Linked DNA regions of Homo sapiens. The protein of the gene in region 1 interacts with the protein of each later gene in a pairwise test. Each region holds a gene or a part of one and is shown on either strand. Other genes may lie near its edges. The genes, in order: TMF1 and CMTM5.

Region 1 (7,863 bases):
CTCCACCTCCCAGGCTCAAGCAATCCTCCTGCCTCAGCCTCCTGAGTAGCTGGGATTAGAGGCACGCACCACCACCACCCGGCTAATTTTTGTATTTTTAGTAGAGACGGGGTTTCACCATGTTGGCCAGGCTTGTCTCGAACTCCTGACCTTAAATGATCCACCCACCTCTGCCTCCCCAAGTGCTGAGATTACAGTCATAAGCCACCACACTCAGCCAACCCTGTTTATTTTAAATCTTTTCAGAGACAAAAGTGCTTAATAATTTAAAAATTAATACAATGAAAAATTCACTATCAAATGTCAGAAAAAGACAATATCATACAGTACTTAAGCTAGGTATTCAGATATTACATAAATCCCAGAGTTACACACTTTGAATGTCTTGGTTTAAATGACAGGCTCTTAAGACCTGTTTAAAGTTTTCTTAGGGCAGCACAAATTTCTGTCTATTTTACAGGGACTTACTTTTCTTTTTACTTCCAAAAAACAAAAGCTAGAAACACGTATCTCTGTCTCAATATATCTTATTCCTCATTCTTCCATAAACTGTCACCTATTTCTATGGTTTACGTCCAAACCCTCCTTGCTTTCAGTATTTTTAATTAGGAAGCATCAGCTAGTTATGTGGCAAGTACTTTTCCTGTTCTTACAGTATTTTTCATAGTCAACCAAATACTATACGCACCTTCTTCCATTAACCCTCGGATCTGCTCATCTTTCTCTTTCAAAAGGTCTGCAGTTTCACTACTATTTAATCTAGTGGCAAGTTCTTCTTTTATGTTTTTGATTTCCTAATAAAAAAGAAATCTGTGAATACCGTAAAGAATGACTTTCACTCTAAGTACAGTTCTCATTTCTCCCCCATCCAAAGAAGCTGTCCATAATCACATTTGCAATAAGAATCTGTAAGTTTTGTTCAGTTAATCTACTACCTTGGTTAACTAAGACTAAGAAAACAACTTTGAAAATGATATTCAAAACCTAAATTCAGATATACAAGCAAGTGTTAATATGAAAATATAAATGAGAATAAATTAACTTTCCTTTTCATTTTTATTTTTATTTTTTGAGACAGGGTCTTACTCTGTCACCCAGGCTGGAGTAGTGGTACAATGACGACTCACCACAGCCTCAACCTCCCAGGCTCAGGTGATCCTCCCACCTCAGCTTCCCGAGTAGTTGGGACCACACGCATGTACCACCATGGCCAGCTAATCTTTGTATTTTTTGTAGAGATGAGGTCTCGCCATGTTGCCCAGGCTGGTCTTGAACTCCTGGGCTCAAGCGATCCACCCTCTTCGGCCTCCTGAGTAGCTGTGACCACAGGCGCACACCAGCATGACCAGCTAACTTTATGTATTTTTTAGTAGAGGCAGGGTCTCACCATGTTACCCAGGCTGCTCTCTAACTCCTGGGCTCAAGTGATCCGCCCACTTCAGCCTCCCAGTGTGCTGGGATTATAGACATGAGCCACCACACGTGGCCAAAAATCTACAATTTAAATGTTAATAGATGATATCCTTTTCACCTTACTTCTCTTTTTTCCAATATCAAAATACGATGAATGCACTCCTCAAAAATCTATATCTCTATAGAGTTTAATTAATATTACTTTAAATTTCAATTACCTTTTTAGCAGCATCTCTCTCTTTGCAGGCTAGTTGAACTTTCTTTTCTGCTTCTGCAATTCTTTGAGTAAACTCATCTTTCAAGGAAGAAATGCTACTGCTTTCTTCTTTCACTCTGAACATTTCACTAAATTTAAAATAATATTTGAGAATGAGGATGGTGTCTATATATCCCAAAGGTATACATGAGTTCAATTCTCAAAAGGAAGATAACTTTTCTCTGACATATACCTTATTAAAATAGAACAGTTTTAGGCCTATTAACTTTTAAGAAAAAAAAAGGAAATTTCCCTTGTTAAATTTATTTTAAAACACCTCAAAGAAAATCTGTTAGAAAGAGAAAATGTCACCAATATCTGACATGTAAAAATAAGAGAAGAGTAAATACAATGTTTCAATTCTGAATCTTCTTGTATCACATTTTCCCAATCAGCTCCTTATAGCACAACTGTGTTATTGATTAACACAGTTTTCTTCAAATACGTTTTAAATCTCTAATACTAAAAGACTAAAAACGAAAGGAAAGAGTTTTCCAGTTTTGCAAAATGACTCTCTTCAATGGCAAAGGGTAAAGACAATCAAAAGAGAAAAGTAATCTTTAGGGTTATAATTGAAAGCTATACAACTTTCAATAATGATAAAATTACAAAACATTTTAATTTCAAAAACATTCTTAAATATGTACAAAGTATACAGGTTTCCAGAAAATGTGTAACATTATTCACATTTGCAGAATACTTACTCTTTCAGGTTATCAAAAGCTTCTTCTAGAAGTGCTTTTTCCTTACTAAGAGATAATAACTGAGCCTCCCTTTTTTCCAGCTTTTCATTCAGAAATTCAACTGTCTGGATAAGGCGAATACATAAAAGTCAGAACGCTTAGCTTTAAAAAAGACCATTTTTACATGCAGGTGTATCACTGTAACAAAGAAAACAGCTTTATCTCATAAAAACAATCAAGAACAGTATTAGGAACACAGAAGATCCAGAACAAGAAGAACTCTTAGGCAGCTGAGAGGAGAGTAAAAGTAAATACAACCAAATAGCTAGTGGGAGTGTAAGTTGAGAAACCCCTTGAGAAAACAATTAGGCAATATCTAGTTGGGGATCTACATACTCTTTGATATAGAAAATTTCACTTTTAGGTATACCTTAGAGGAGAAAATTCTTGCATAAATGCACTAGGCGACATGTATAAGAATACTTTATGTAGCTTCCTGGTAATAGCAAAAATCTGGAATAATCTGCATACACACCAAAAGAAGAAGGGAGATGGATGCAATCAAAAGAGGTCAAAGAGGAAATTTAAAGCCTCTATATTTTAGCTAGGTGGTGGATACACAAGTGTCTATTTTCTGTATTATTCTTTACCCGAAACACATACCCTTTTTAAAATATGACATATTGCATTTAAAAAATAAAAGTAGGCCAGGCGCAGTGGCTCATGCCTGTAATCCCAGCACTTTGGGAGGCTGAGGTGGGGGGATCACCTGAGGTCAGGAATTTGAGAGCAGCCTGGCCAACACGGTGAAAACCAGTCTCTACTGAAAATACAAAAATTAGCTGGGCATGGTGGCAGGCACCTGTAATCCCAGCTACTCAGGAGGCTGAGGCTGGAGAATCGCTTGAACCCAGGAGGTGGAGGTTGCAGTGAGCCAAGATTCTGCAATGATCTTGCACTCCAGCCTGGGTGACAAGAGTGAAACTCCATCTCAAAAAGTAAAAATAAATAAATAAATAAAAGTAGAGGCCGGGCATGGTGGCTCATGCCTGTAATCCCAGCACTTTGGTAGGCTGAGGAGGGCAGATCACTTGAGGTCAGGAGTTCAAGACCAGCCTGACCAACACGGTGAAACCCCATCTCTACAAAAAATACAAAAATTAGCCAGGCATGGTAGCATACGTCTGTAGTCCCAGCTACTTGGGAGGCTGAGGCAGAAGAATCACTTGAACCTGGGAGGCAGACTAGCCTGGGCAACAGGGCAAGACTCCGCCTCAAAAAATAAATAAATAAAATAAAATAAAAGTAGGGCTGGACACGGGTTCATGCTTATAATCCCAGCACTGTGGGAGGCCAAGATGGGAAGACCGCTTGAGCCCAGGAGTTCAAGACCAGCCTGGCAGCATAGTGAGACCTCATCTCTACTAAAAATCAAAAAAATAGCCAGGCGTGGTGCGAGCCTATGGTCCCAGCTACTAGAGCGGATTAGGTGGGAGGACTGCTTGAGCCCAGGAGGTCAAGGCTGCCGTGAGCCATGATCGCACCACTGCACACCAGCCTGAGCAACAAAGAGAGACCCTGTGAGCCGCGATCGCACCACTGCACGCTAGCCTGGACAATAGAGAGAGACCCTGTCTCATTCATACATACATCCATCCACACTAAAAGTAATTTTAGAAAACCCATAAGAATTTTTAAATCTCCATAATGTATCAGTATAAAGCTAAACAAAAAGTAATGCTTGGAATGTCTAATTCCTTAGGTCCTACTCAAATGGTGATAAACTTGAGTATAAAAGGAGTAGGAAGGGTTCCTTTTTGGACTCAAAAAAATAGTCTTACCTGAGTTTGGTTTAGATGAACTTAGAAATCACTTACCTTCTTAAATACACTGAAATTCAAAAATATCTGATAGTAATTAGTGCTGGTTTCTAAGAATTCAAACTCCTATTATATATCTTACAGTATATAGCTATTACTAATTGAAATATTATTGCACAGCATTTTGTTTGTGAATATTTAACCTGATTAACAGAATCTGGCACTTTTTTAAAAAATTAAGTAATTCAATACATGGCACTTACAGGACATTTCTTCAAGACATCCTACATCTCAGAAGTCTATTAAAGATACCAGATCCAACTAAATTTGTATATCTAAAAGTCACAGTAAAAACCAAAACTAGGACTTAATGTCAAAGAATTTATATCACTTTCCTTTCACATGTATTAGGTAGAAGCAATCTGTCCCTCCTAAGCAATGCTTTTGTTCCTTAGACATTTCTCTTTCTCGTTCATGTGAAATATAGCTATCAATAGGAGATCTCAAAAATAACATAAGCAGAAAACAAACTGAAGCAATATAAGGATATATACTCCTTATATATGAATGAAAATACTAATAACAGAAAAGCACCAATAATTAAAATCTTAAATTATCATTTAATATTTGCTACAAATAATGTAAACATGTAAAAACAAATTCTGATACAAGAAAAACCATAACATTTAGTTTTTTTGGCACATCTATCTGCAAAGGAGGTGAAGATACATGTTAATGTAAGAAAATATTCCTTTCAAATTGACATACTAATAAGCATAACAGAATTTTGAAGTGATAAGGACTCAAAAATAAAGATGTAAGATGAAAACTTTCATGCTTAACTGTATTGAAGTATCAACTTATTCTACCATAATTGCCTTGGAGAAATTCCAAATTATATTAATAATTGTTCAACTTCAAGGTACTTAATGCTACACAGAAATGGCAAAATGCGTATGTTTTTAAATCTGTATAAATTATTATGCATCAATGAAAGTATTTTTTAAAACAAATGATTTAATCTCCAAAAAGCACATCTAAAAATCCCTTCCACTTACTAGAGTTACCTTGCAAACATCTTCCTTCTCAGAAAGTGCTTCTGGCTGACTTTCAGCAGGTTCACACTGCTCAGCCACCTTGTCTAACACAGTCTGTCCTTCATTTATTGGTGTGGAAGAAACCAAGATATCAGGCTGTTCACAGTTAACAGGAGTTGCACTTCGTCCACTTTCTTCCATTTCTGCTTCCTCAGTGGGTATAACTAATGTTTCATTTACTTCTTCAGATTTTCCTTCAGCAGATTCAACTGTTTTAGACTTTGGAGTTGAAGAATTAACTATAATAGGCACTAAAGCATATCCCTTGCCTGACAATTCATCATCTGAATTGATTTCACTTACACTCCGGCTATCTAATGACTGTACACTAAATGAGTCTATTCTTTCAAAAGCATCAGATGAACAGCAACTCTCAGTGAGTTTTTGGAAATCATCTAAACGATTATATTCAGGACAAGCAGATGCAGAGAGAAGCTGAAAAGATGTCTGCATCAAGTGAAGACTTGATTTTGAATCTGTAGTCTCTTGTCTCGAGCTCGCTGAGCTCTCACTTATTACACTTTCATGATCTAAAACTTCAATATCACTGGTGGTAGAAGTACCTGATGAAAAGGTACTAACAGGAGGAGAAGGTGTATTGCTCTGCCTGTCTTCATGTTTTTGTTCCTTAGGTTCCAAAGCTATGTCCTTTGTTTCTGCTGTGAGAGACTGCGTAGACGTATTAGATATACTTTCCATAGTTGTTTTCACATCAATTACACTTTCAGATACTTTCAAACTTACAGTTGGCACCTTCATATCCGATTCTTTATTAACAGTTTCTTCGTGCTTGCCTTCAGTTTTAGGTGATGAAGTACCTGCTGCCAGAGTTTCCCCTGAAACACACAAAGAAGAGTCTTTTACTTGTGATTCAGTTGTTTCAGGAGTTCTTGACTGGCCAATGTGCAAGGATTCATGTAAGCTGCTTTTCACTTCTTCTTCTGGTCGTTGTGATTTTGCTGGAGGTTTTGATACCACTGGACTCTTCTGAATGGTCTGGACATCAGTTGGCGAGAGAAAGGCACTGAAGAAATTTTCAGATTCATCGACCACAGTCCTCCGAACTGGCTTTGTGATTGCTTTAGGAGAGGCTATTGGTGGACTCTGAGGTTCAGTGTTTGATTTCAACCCCCAGGTTGAAGTATCCCATCCTCCACTGACAGGGGAACTTATTCCTTTAACAAAAAAGTAAATATTAAAAAAGAACACATATATGTTACATTAATATTTCAATCATCATTATAAATCAGTATAAATATAAATTTAGAAAAAATACCCTATGAAATACCTGTAATTTGCACCTGCTAAACTCCTTGCTTACTACATCATTAAGTAGTTTCCAAGTTAATACAGGGACTTACGGAAGAAAACTGGTGTGGGTCCACCTGAGAGGAAGGAGGAGCACAGACAAAAGACTGGGCCTGGCCTGGACTACCAGATGCGAGTATGTTATTCCTCCCCACAACAAATTAAGGAAGTAACAGTATATGTTTTATAACCCACAGTAAGTCCAAGATACCTATGATTCATCTCATAATAACACGCTTTACTTATCAATATGAAATAAACTAATATGGAACTAACTGAATAGGTTGGGCCATGTGCAGTCACAGAAAAATGACCCTACCTATTCAGTCAGTTTCATATTAATTTTTACTTGTAATATCAGTAATATAGTTATGAGCTAGACAAAGGGCAACACTCAAAAACTGAACTCAGTGGGTATGGAGGTTCACACCTATAATCCCAACACTAGAAGAGTCATTTGAGTCCAGGAGTTCAAGACAAGCCTGGGCAACATAGTGAGACCCCTGTCCCTACAAAAAAATTTTTTTAATTAGCTGGGCCTGGTGGCCCACATATGTGGTCCCAGCTACTCAGGAGGCTGAGGTGGGAAGATCATCTGAGCCCAGGAGGTGGAAGCTGCAGTGAGCCATGATCAAACCACTGCACTTCAGCCTGGGTGACAGATCGAGAACCTGTCTCGAAAACAAACAAAACAACAAAAGCCTCAAACCAAGATAATGGTGACAAATGTTCTTTCCCGAAGATCATATTAAACTGATGGGAATGGTAAGTTCTAGAGAACAAATTCATTTTCATCCACTTAATCACAGGCTGATTCTCTAAATCCCACTCTCCAAGCCCACTCTAAGAGGAAGTTTTGTTCTCAAATTCTAAATTATGTCAGAAATTACAAGGTCATTATAAATTTCAGAAATGTGTGTTTTTTTAAGAACTATTGCTCTTTGACATAGAGGTGGTTGACACTAGGGTTTTTAAAAAAGCGCTACAAAGAAAATGACTGTTTTCTTGGGGAAAAAGTTAATTATCATATCAGTCATACAAATAGCTACTACTAAAATCCTGATTTTTAAAAATGGCATAATCAGGATCTTAAAAATGGTATATTCGTTAAAGTATTTAAAGCATTTCTTTAAAAATGTTTTCTTTTTCAAATTAAAATGTGGCTGAACAAAATATTCACAAAATATTCACAATTAGAAGTTGGTGGAGAGAGCACAAGTAACTAAAAGCTTCTAAAAACTATCAAGCCTTATAGTAGAATCTATCCTTTAATATGACTTCAGGCC
Region 2 (8,855 bases), on another chromosome or scaffold:
CATGATACTGGCCTCATCACTGTTCCTGAGTGCCCCTGCTTTCCCAGCCACCACCTGCTTCTTCTAAGTGCCCTCCATCCCACAGTTCCAGGTGCCCCAAGACTCATCAGAGCAGAGCAGTTTCTCCCAATTTTCCAGATTGCCCTTTGACTTCATCACTTCTCTCTTTTGGGGCTGCTTTGCCCTAACGCATTGGAAAGATTCCTCTCACTGCAGTTTAAGTTATTCCTGGTTCCCTTTGTTGATTTCCTAGTCCTTGGTTACTAGAGGAGTATTTTCTAAGGGAAAGCACATGCAAATCAAGCCACATCATTCTAGGGGCAATGTCTGTGTATGGGTATGTTGGGTGCGTATGGGGGATGAGGCAGGCCAATAGGCAAGCATGAAGAGAAGGACCTGGGGGGAAGGACACACTGGCCCACTCTCAGCACAGTGTCTCCCAAGCAGGCTGGACCCGGCTGACCTGTGTCTTTGGGGTCAAGCCCAACTGTAAGCCTTTCTGGGGCACACATACACCCTCCTGGCTAACAGTGGCCCATGTTTCTGGACCTGCTGAGGCTGAGTGGGCTCACTTCATGGCCTGAAAGCAGTAGCTGACCCTGTCATGGGCTTGGTCCCCAAGGCTCTGTGAATGAGAGCAGGTTGGTTCCTGGAACTGAGACCTCCTTCCTGTTGGGTCTTAGGTGAGGCTGTTTCAGTTTCCCTCCTCTTCCTTGCTTCACCTTCTCATTTGTGCAATGGGGACACTCACCCACAGCTTCTTCCATCAGACCTTGCCCATCCAGCCAACAAACTTAGGAAGTCAGGGTCTTCCAGCAGCCCTGTGAGGGTAGGCTTGTATCCCCGGTGGGGGGCAGTGACTGGCGAGGGCAAGGGGGAGTTAGGGAGTGGGTCATGGACAATGGGGGAGAAGTCATAGCTGATGGGGGTCATAGAATTTTGGGGTCATTGAAAATGTGGAAGAGGTCAGAGAACAAAGGGGATGGGAGTCAAAGGATGTCTAAGGGAAAGGAAATAATCACGAAGGTGGATGATCAGAGGGACACCTGGGAAGAGGGGAATGGTGAAACCAGACCCTGGATGGGGGGAGCAGGGATCATGGAAACGAGGCCTCTTGAAGGGAGGCCACAAGACATTTCCTAATTTTGGCTACCAAACCAACCAGGGAAATCCCGCTAATGCCAGTTCACAAGAATGCAGAACAGCAGACTGTTATTGCTTTGACCCCATGGCCAGAAAAATTCAAAGAGCAAAGTTTACCCAATCAGCTACCAGGCATATAATGATGGTCATCACAACTTCCATGAGTATTGCATTTTAAGCAGCCTTTGGAAATACTTTCAGAGTTTTTTTGGTTTTGTTTTTTAACCTCAAGTCACTCCCTAAAAAGACAGTGGAAATAAATTTGAATAAACAAAACAGGCTTGCTGAAAATAAAATCAGGACTCCTAACCTGCTCCAGTCAGCCTGCTTCCACGAGGCCTGTCAGTCAGTGCCCCACTTGTGACTGAGTGTGCAGTGCCCAGCATGTACCAGGTCAGTGCAGAGGGCTGCCTGAGGGCTGTGCTGAGAGGGAGAGGAGCAGAGATGCTGCTGAGGGTGGAGGGAGGCCAAGCTGCCAGGTTTGGGGCTGGGGGCCAAGTGGAGTGAGAAACTGGGATCCCAGGGGGAGGGTGCAGATGAGGGAGCGACCCAGATTAGGTGAGGACAGTTCTCTCATTAGCCTTTTCCTACAGGTGGTTGCATTCTTGGCAATGGTCATGGGAACCCACACCTACAGCCACTGGCCCAGCTGCTGCCCCAGCAAAGGGCAGGACACCTCTGAGGAGCTGCTGAGGTGGAGCACTGTGCCTGTGCCTCCCCTAGAGCCTGCTAGGCCCAACCGCCACCCAGAGTCCTGTAGGGCCAGTGAAGATGGACCCCTCAACAGCAGGGCCATCTCCCCCTGGAGATATGAGTGAGTCTGCTGCCCCTCCCGAATGCCTGCCCTGTGTGTGCTGGCCAGGGTATGCGTGAGGGACCAGGGCAATTCCAGCTTACTTTCCCATTTTGATCTCAGAGGGGCTGTAAAGGTTTGGGAGTTAGACAAGGTCTGTATTTGAGTCCTAGCTCTGACTCTCATTGGATGATCTTGAGTCAATTCAAGTTTTCAAAACTCAGGGTTTTTTTTTTTTTCACCTGCAAAATGATATAATGCCCCATAGGCTAATGTGCAGATCAAATGAAATATAATGTATGTAAAAGTCTGTATTTATGTTGGTTCTCTCCTTTTCTTTTAAAACATCCCTATAATGGCCCATGTTTTTTCTGGGTAAAATATTAGGGAATAATGGCATGATACAGGCATGAAGCATCCCAATACCAATTGATACTGCCCTGGCCATGAATGGGTTAGTTATAAGCATACTAAAGGAGTGAAACCCTTAACTTTTGGGGGCAGCTGGCTGGCTGGAGCTGTGGACTGGATATCTTTGATCATGATCATGGGTACTGTATTCTTTCACTCAGTGTGCCACATAAATATTATAGTTCTCTATTTGTGCCATGATATGAAAAATATTAGGAAGTGCTGAAATATGAATGATGAAGCAAAATATTAAAAACTAGGGTCTTAGGGATTCCAGACATGTGATTTCACTTCTTCCTTCTAGTTCTGTCTTAGCATTGGCTTTGGGGGTAGATGGAGAAGTTCAGTGGTGGGGAGGGGGTCAGATCTAACTGAGATTGGATCTAGTGTGGACACTACAGGTCATGACTCTTTGGAGTGGTCTCAGAAGCTGGCTGGGTCCTGGGCCAAATCAGATGGCATGGGAGCTTCTTAGGGGAGGCGGGTGCCAGAGGTTAACTCAGCTGTCTTCCAGACCCCTTGCTGGGAGTCTGTGAACCCGAGAACCACTCAGGTGGCTTTCCCCAAAGTGTGTTCTGTGCAATGCTCATCCCATGAGCTGCTTCTCAGAAAAAAGTGATGCCAGGTAAACTTGGGAAAGACTGCTGTATCTCCTACCCCTTGGAGATTCATACTGTCATTGTACATTAAAGTCTGCAAGAAGTCTGTAGAAAGTAAACCGTTAAACTGGTGTTTCCCAAATTCATTTAAGCACCCAACAGGTGCAGGTGATTTATTAGGGAACCCACTTTGGGAAGTGATGTGCTAGCTAATTCCATTTGCCAGGGCTTGTCTGTGTGGGGAATGGTCCCACAAGCTGGAGACTGTCGCCTGCCAGACTAATGGAGTCGCAGACCTGTGGGACATCTACTTTTCAGTGTTTTTCATCTTTCTTTCTTTCTTTCTTTTTTTTTTTTTGCCATGAAATCCTTTCAGAATAAGTAAATAAGTCTTCCCATGCACTCTCAAGTATGCTTATAATATAAGCTTGCACAGCGTCTGGAAGAATGTGCAGGAAATAGTTGAGGATAGCTTCTTCTGGGGAGTGGGGCTGGTAGGGAGAGACTATTAACTTTCACTCTTTATACTCTTTAATACTTGGATGTCAGAGTGGTTTTTACTTTTGCAATAATGCTATAATAATAATAGAAACACCACCTAAAGTCCGGCCCGGTGGCTCATGCCTGTAATCCCAGCACTTTGGGAGGTCGAGGTGGGTGGATTACCTAAGGTCAGGAGTTCAAGACCAGCCTGGCCAACCATGGCCAACATCATGAAACCCCATCTCTACTAAAAATATGAAAATTAGCTGGGTATGGTGGCGGGCATCAGGAGAATCGCTCGAACCCAGGAGGTAGAGGTTGCAGTTGAGCCAAGATCGTGCCACTGCACTCCAGCTTGGGTACTCCGTCTCAAAAAAACAAAAACAAAAAATCAAAAAACAAACAAAAACACCTAAAGTGTAATCATTACAATAAGAAACCTCATGCTGAGTCAGATAGAAGCAGTGCTGGTCAATGGAGGCTAAGGCAGGAGCCTGCTCACCCTCCCCTGCCTCCCTCACGGTCCCAGGACCAGTTGGAAAGCACTCTGTCACCTGCTACCCTCATTTACAGTGGGGAAAATTTAATAAAGGAGGGAGGTGACTTGTTCAAAGTTACACAGCAAGTGGGTTCAGAACTGAGACAAGAGGCCAAGGCCCCAGACGGACCATTTCCTTCTTCTGGCACTCCCATGCCACCCCACCCTCTCTGTTTCCGGCCCATCTTTCCAAGGCCTGACAAGTGCCGCCCCCACAGGTTGGACAGAGACTTGAACCGGCTCCCCCAGGACCTGTACCACGCCCGTTGCCTGTGCCCGCACTGCGTCAGCCTACAGACAGGCTCCCACATGGACCCCCGGGGCAACTCGGAGCTGCTCTACCACAACCAGACTGTCTTCTACCGGCGGCCATGCCATGGCGAGAAGGGCACCCACAAGGGCTACTGCCTGGAGCGCAGGCTGTACCGTGTTTCCTTAGCTTGTGTGTGTGTGCGGCCCCGTGTGATGGGCTAGCCGGACCTGCTGGAGGCTGGTCCCTTTTTGGGAAACCTGGAGCCAGGTGTACAACCACTTGCCATGAAGGGCCAGGATGCCCAGATGCTTGGCCCCTGTGAAGTGCTGTCTGGAGCAGCAGGATCCCGGGACAGGATGGGGGGCTTTGGGGAAAGCCTGCACTTCTGCACATTTTGAAAAGAGCAGCTGCTGCTTAGGGCCGCCGGAAGCTGGTGTCCTGTCATTTTCTCTCAGGAAAGGTTTTCAAAGTTCTGCCCATTTCTGGAGGCCACCACTCCTGTCTCTTCCTCTTTTCCCATCCCCTGCTACCCTGGCCCAGCACAGGCACTTTCTAGATATTTCCCCCTTGCTGGAGAAGAAAGAGCCCCTGGTTTTATTTGTTTGTTTACTCATCACTCAGTGAGCATCTACTTTGGGTGCATTCTAGTGTAGTTACTAGTCTTTTGACATGGATGATTCTGAGGAGGAAGCTGTTATTGAATGTATAGAGATTTATCCAAATAAATATCTTTATTTAAAAATGGCCTAATCTGTATTTGGCATCCGTGGTGCCTGAACATCTCGCGGTCTCCCAGCCTGTCCCTTCTCCTTTCCACCATTGGCCCTCACCTCTGTCCACCCTGCCAGCTCTCTCCGCCCTCCAGAGTTTCCGCTGCACCCTCCCGTCCTCTCCCATCTCTGTCTCCCTGGCCCATCCCAAACACCAGGGTGGGGGCTAGGCCGCGCTCCCGGCATGCTGGAGAGACAGAGGCCCATTGAGGCATTGCAGCAGGCACAGAGCGCCCCCTTGTCCCCCAACAATCCGCCTTTGTCCTCCAGTCCTGGCTGCTGCAGCTTGGTCCTGGGGGTGCTGCCTGGGCTGGGCTCCAGCTCACACCCTCCCTAAAAGGAAATGGGAGAAAGGACCGGCCAAACAAGAGGGTTAAGGTTAGAGAAGGGGGACACAAATGTCTTCAGGCTTAGGTCCCTGGGGGCTCCCAGTCCTGCCCCTGTTCCTCTACTCACATCCCAGCTCCTCCCAGTTTCTTTTCGGACCTCCTCCTCTCCCCTTCCTTCTCTATTCCAGGCTGGGTTGGGCTCTAAGCAAGGGGAGGGATTAGAGCCTCCTTCCTCTCTGCCCCTCCCCATGGGTCTCTAGGGGGCTGGTGCAGGCAGCAGCAGAGGCACTCTGGGCAGCTGGGTGAGGGCCCATCTGGGCAAGGCCCCCAGCGCCTGCCTTCTCTCCCGGGGCCCTGTGGGCAAGCCTCCTGCTTCACTTTCAGGTTTCTCGAAGTGCCTTCTTGCTCCTGTCTGTTTCCCCATCCTGCCAGATTTCTGTTTCTCTTGCTGGGCTTTTGGCAGTAGGGGGCTGTGTTGGTGGGCCCTACGAAGATGCTCAGTGCTCGAGATCGCCGGGACCGGCACCCTGAGGAGGGGGTAGTTGCAGAGCTCCAGGGCTTCGCGGTGGACAAGGCCTTCCTCACCTCCCACAAGGGCATCCTGCTGGAAACCGAGCTGGTAACAGCTGCCTCCCAACCTGGTGCCTCCATCTCCCTGACCCCCGGCTCCTGGCCAGCCTTATGCCAGCCCCCAGCTCACCCTTCAGTAGCCTCCTTCCCCAAGCCCTCTGGACACCTCTCCTGCCCGCAGCTGCCCCTTCTTCGTCTCCTACTCTGCCTTCTTGCTGCCTCTCCACCCGGAGACATTTACAGCAGGTTTCAGTTGCAGCAGGAAGGACTGCAGTTAGACAGGGTGACTTTTTGGGACATTGAGGAAGCTTGAGACATAGGGATGGGACAGGGGCAATGACAGCCTCTAACATGGCCACTTCTCAGCACGTCCAAGAAGTCTAACTATCAAAAAGGGCAGACTTCCTGCAACTGCACTTTATCTGTGGTCTGCTGCCCAGAAACATCTCTTCTCAGGAAAGGATCTTCCCCTGGTTACTTAGCAAGACCACAGTGTAGAGTTAAGGCCTCTGCACGTATGCCACCCTAGGTCATCAGAGCTAAAGGGGCTCCCAGAAACCACTGGGCAGCATCTGCCTTCTCTCTTGGCATGGAATCAAAGGCTCTGGTCCTTGTCAGGGGGCTTTCAGGCATCTGGGGGTGGGGAAAGCATTATGAGGCAGGGGGCTCCTCTTGGTCCCTGTGGAGTCGGGTCTCTGTGGGCACAACTCCAGGGGCTGGCATTCACACTGTACCTATGAATTACTGTGGGATAGTGCTCCTGGGAGCCATATGGCTTGGCCAGACTGCTGGGGTTGCTGGGTGAGCAGAGTGGGAGGCCGGAGACTGCCCTTGACCGGCAAATGCCCTGCAACGGTGGCTCCTGACACCAGGGGATAGGGAGATGTGCCAGAGTCCTTCCTCCCCTCCAAGGACAGGTAGTAGGTGCCAGCCTAGGGGAGCTTCCAAGGAGGGGAAGGCAAAGCCCTGGCCCCTGCCTGTGTCCCCTTCTTGGCATGTTCCACATGCTCGGTCCTGCAGGCCCTGACCCTCATCATCTTCATCTGCTTCACGGCCTCCATCTCTGCCTACATGGCCGCGGCGCTACTGGAGTTCTTCATCACACTTGCCTTCCTCTTCCTCTATGCCACCCAGTACTACCAGCGCTTCGACCGAATTAACTGGCCCTGTCTGGTGAGGAACCCTGACCCCTAGCCCAGTTTGGGGCCCTTCCCTCTCCTCTAAATGATGCATTTTCCTTTCCTCCCCGAGCTTCTTTCCATTTCCACACCACAGCTGGGCTTTGTCCCATGCTATGCCCTGCACTCAAAGGTGTGCTTTGACTCACACTGATTTCACAGCTGCAGGGCCACGGGCAATCAGGAGGACCACATCCGCTAGATCTACTCTCCCACTCAGCAAAGGTCCAGCCCCAGCCCTGGCCTGGCTTGACCCCCCCGGGCTGGCATACTCCAGCCGCTGTCCCCTGGGTTCCAGCCCCAGCGCCTGGCTTCTGGTCCTGGTTGCTCTGGTTCATCTGCTTCCACTCCCTGGGTAGCAGTGTGAGCGCTCTGTCTCTTGAATGTGCTTCATATTGTGTGAGGGGTATCCTATGGAGGGGTTCAGAATCCCTCAGGGTCGGGCTGCTGGCTAGCCTGGAAAACTTCAGGGTAACGCCCCCTGCCTTCTGAGGTCCTGTTAACCCTGCACCCCTGGCCCCCAGGACTTCCTGCGCTGTGTCAGTGCCATCATCATCTTCCTGGTGGTCTCCTTTGCAGCTGTGACCTCCCGGGACGGAGCTGCCATTGCTGCTTTTGTGAGTTCAGCCCTGCAGGACTCCTTAGCCCCTCAAGAGCTCAGGCTGGTGCTTGCACACTTTCTGTATCAGAAGCCACAGCCAGGACTTGGGGTTCTGGCTTGCACCTCACCCTATACCTTAACCCAATGGCCCTATAGCCTCTGTTTTGCCATCCCCACTCCCACTCCCACAGGTTTTTGGCATCATCCTGGTTTCCATCTTTGCCTATGATGCCTTCAAGATCTACCGGACTGAGATGGCACCCGGGGCCAGCCAGGGTGAGTGCCTGTGCTCTGTGGAGAGGAGATGCCCTCCCCACCCTAGCTACCCATCCTGATGTGGGTCCCTACCTGGCTCTATCCTCACAGGGGACCAGCAGTGACTCTGGGGCTACCTGGCTCCTAGGCCCAGCCAGCCAGAGAGGACAGTGGAGCCCAGACACGTCTCCTTGGGATTCACTAGCCCCCAGCCCGCCAAACCCCACCCCAGCCCTACACAGCAGTCTGGCCTGAGACGTCACTGGGGACTTATCTGTGGAGCCTGGTGCTCCAGGATGTGGCTTCTCATGAAGCTCTGGCCAGAGGAGGGGAACTTATTGGGGGAGGGGGGGTGGAGGGGAGGAATCTGGACCTCTAAGTCATTCCCAAATTAAAATATTCAAATTCTACTGGTGAGTCTCTTTCTTCCCCAGAAATTAGGCAGGTCAGGAATGTCAAGGAGTATTCATGGGAATGTTGCCAGAGCAGGTCGTGGTCTGTCTCTGGGACTGGGTCTGAGCAGTGAGGATGTGGGGGCTAGCCAGAAGAAGCTGAAGACATCCTCCAACACAAAACTTCTACGCTACACCTCTGTGTGCACGGCCACTTTGTGGTGTGCCTGGTGGCTGGGCATCTGGAGTTCTGTGTCTGAGAAGGCACAGCCTTCCTCATGGGAGCATGCATGCACCACCACACCTGTTCCCGCAGGTTAGTGGGCTGGAGGCCAGGCGCTCGCCTGGGGCGTGTGCAGAGCTCCCCCTTGTGGTGTGGGGAAGACTTGGCCCACAGGACGCAGGGAGAGGGCAGCCTGAGGTATCAGAGGAGGGAGAGATTTCCCAAAATGCGAATGCTGGGAGAGCCGTTGATTATCAGCTGGTCCAATGCCCTCATTTCACATAAGAGAAAACAGGCCCAGCCAGGGGAGGTGAACT

The links.
Region 2: the proteins of TMF1 (region 1) and CMTM5 interact in binary tests that used the Homo sapiens proteins (3 or more experiments, as listed by UniProt).

The regions. Positions count from the first base shown.
Region 1 is NC_000003.12:69,042,119-69,049,981, forward strand, and holds part of TMF1 (TATA element modulatory factor), read right to left. Parts: intron 6,918-7,863; exon of another isoform or gene 6,840-6,917; intron 6,445-6,839; coding exon 5,240-6,444; coding exon of another isoform or gene 5,231-5,239; intron 2,478-5,230; coding exon 2,374-2,477; intron 1,759-2,373; coding exon 1,632-1,758; intron 795-1,631; coding exon 689-794; intron 1-688. UniProt on the Homo sapiens protein: Potential coactivator of the androgen receptor. Mediates STAT3 degradation. May play critical roles in two RAB6-dependent retrograde transport processes: one from endosomes to the Golgi and the other from the Golgi to the ER.
Region 2 is NC_000014.9:23,371,440-23,380,294, forward strand, and holds CMTM5 (CKLF-like MARVEL transmembrane domain-containing protein 5), read left to right. Parts: upstream 1-5,606; 5' UTR 5,607-5,812; coding exon 5,813-5,938; intron 5,939-6,909; coding exon 6,910-7,062; intron 7,063-7,229; coding exon 7,230-7,430; intron 7,431-7,591; coding exon 7,592-7,684; intron 7,685-7,859; coding exon 7,860-7,944; intron 7,945-8,034; coding exon 8,035-8,048; 3' UTR 8,049-8,333; downstream 8,334-8,855. Other genes in the region: IL25 (interleukin-25 isoform 1 precursor), read left to right, coding at 1,680-1,957, 4,186-4,441.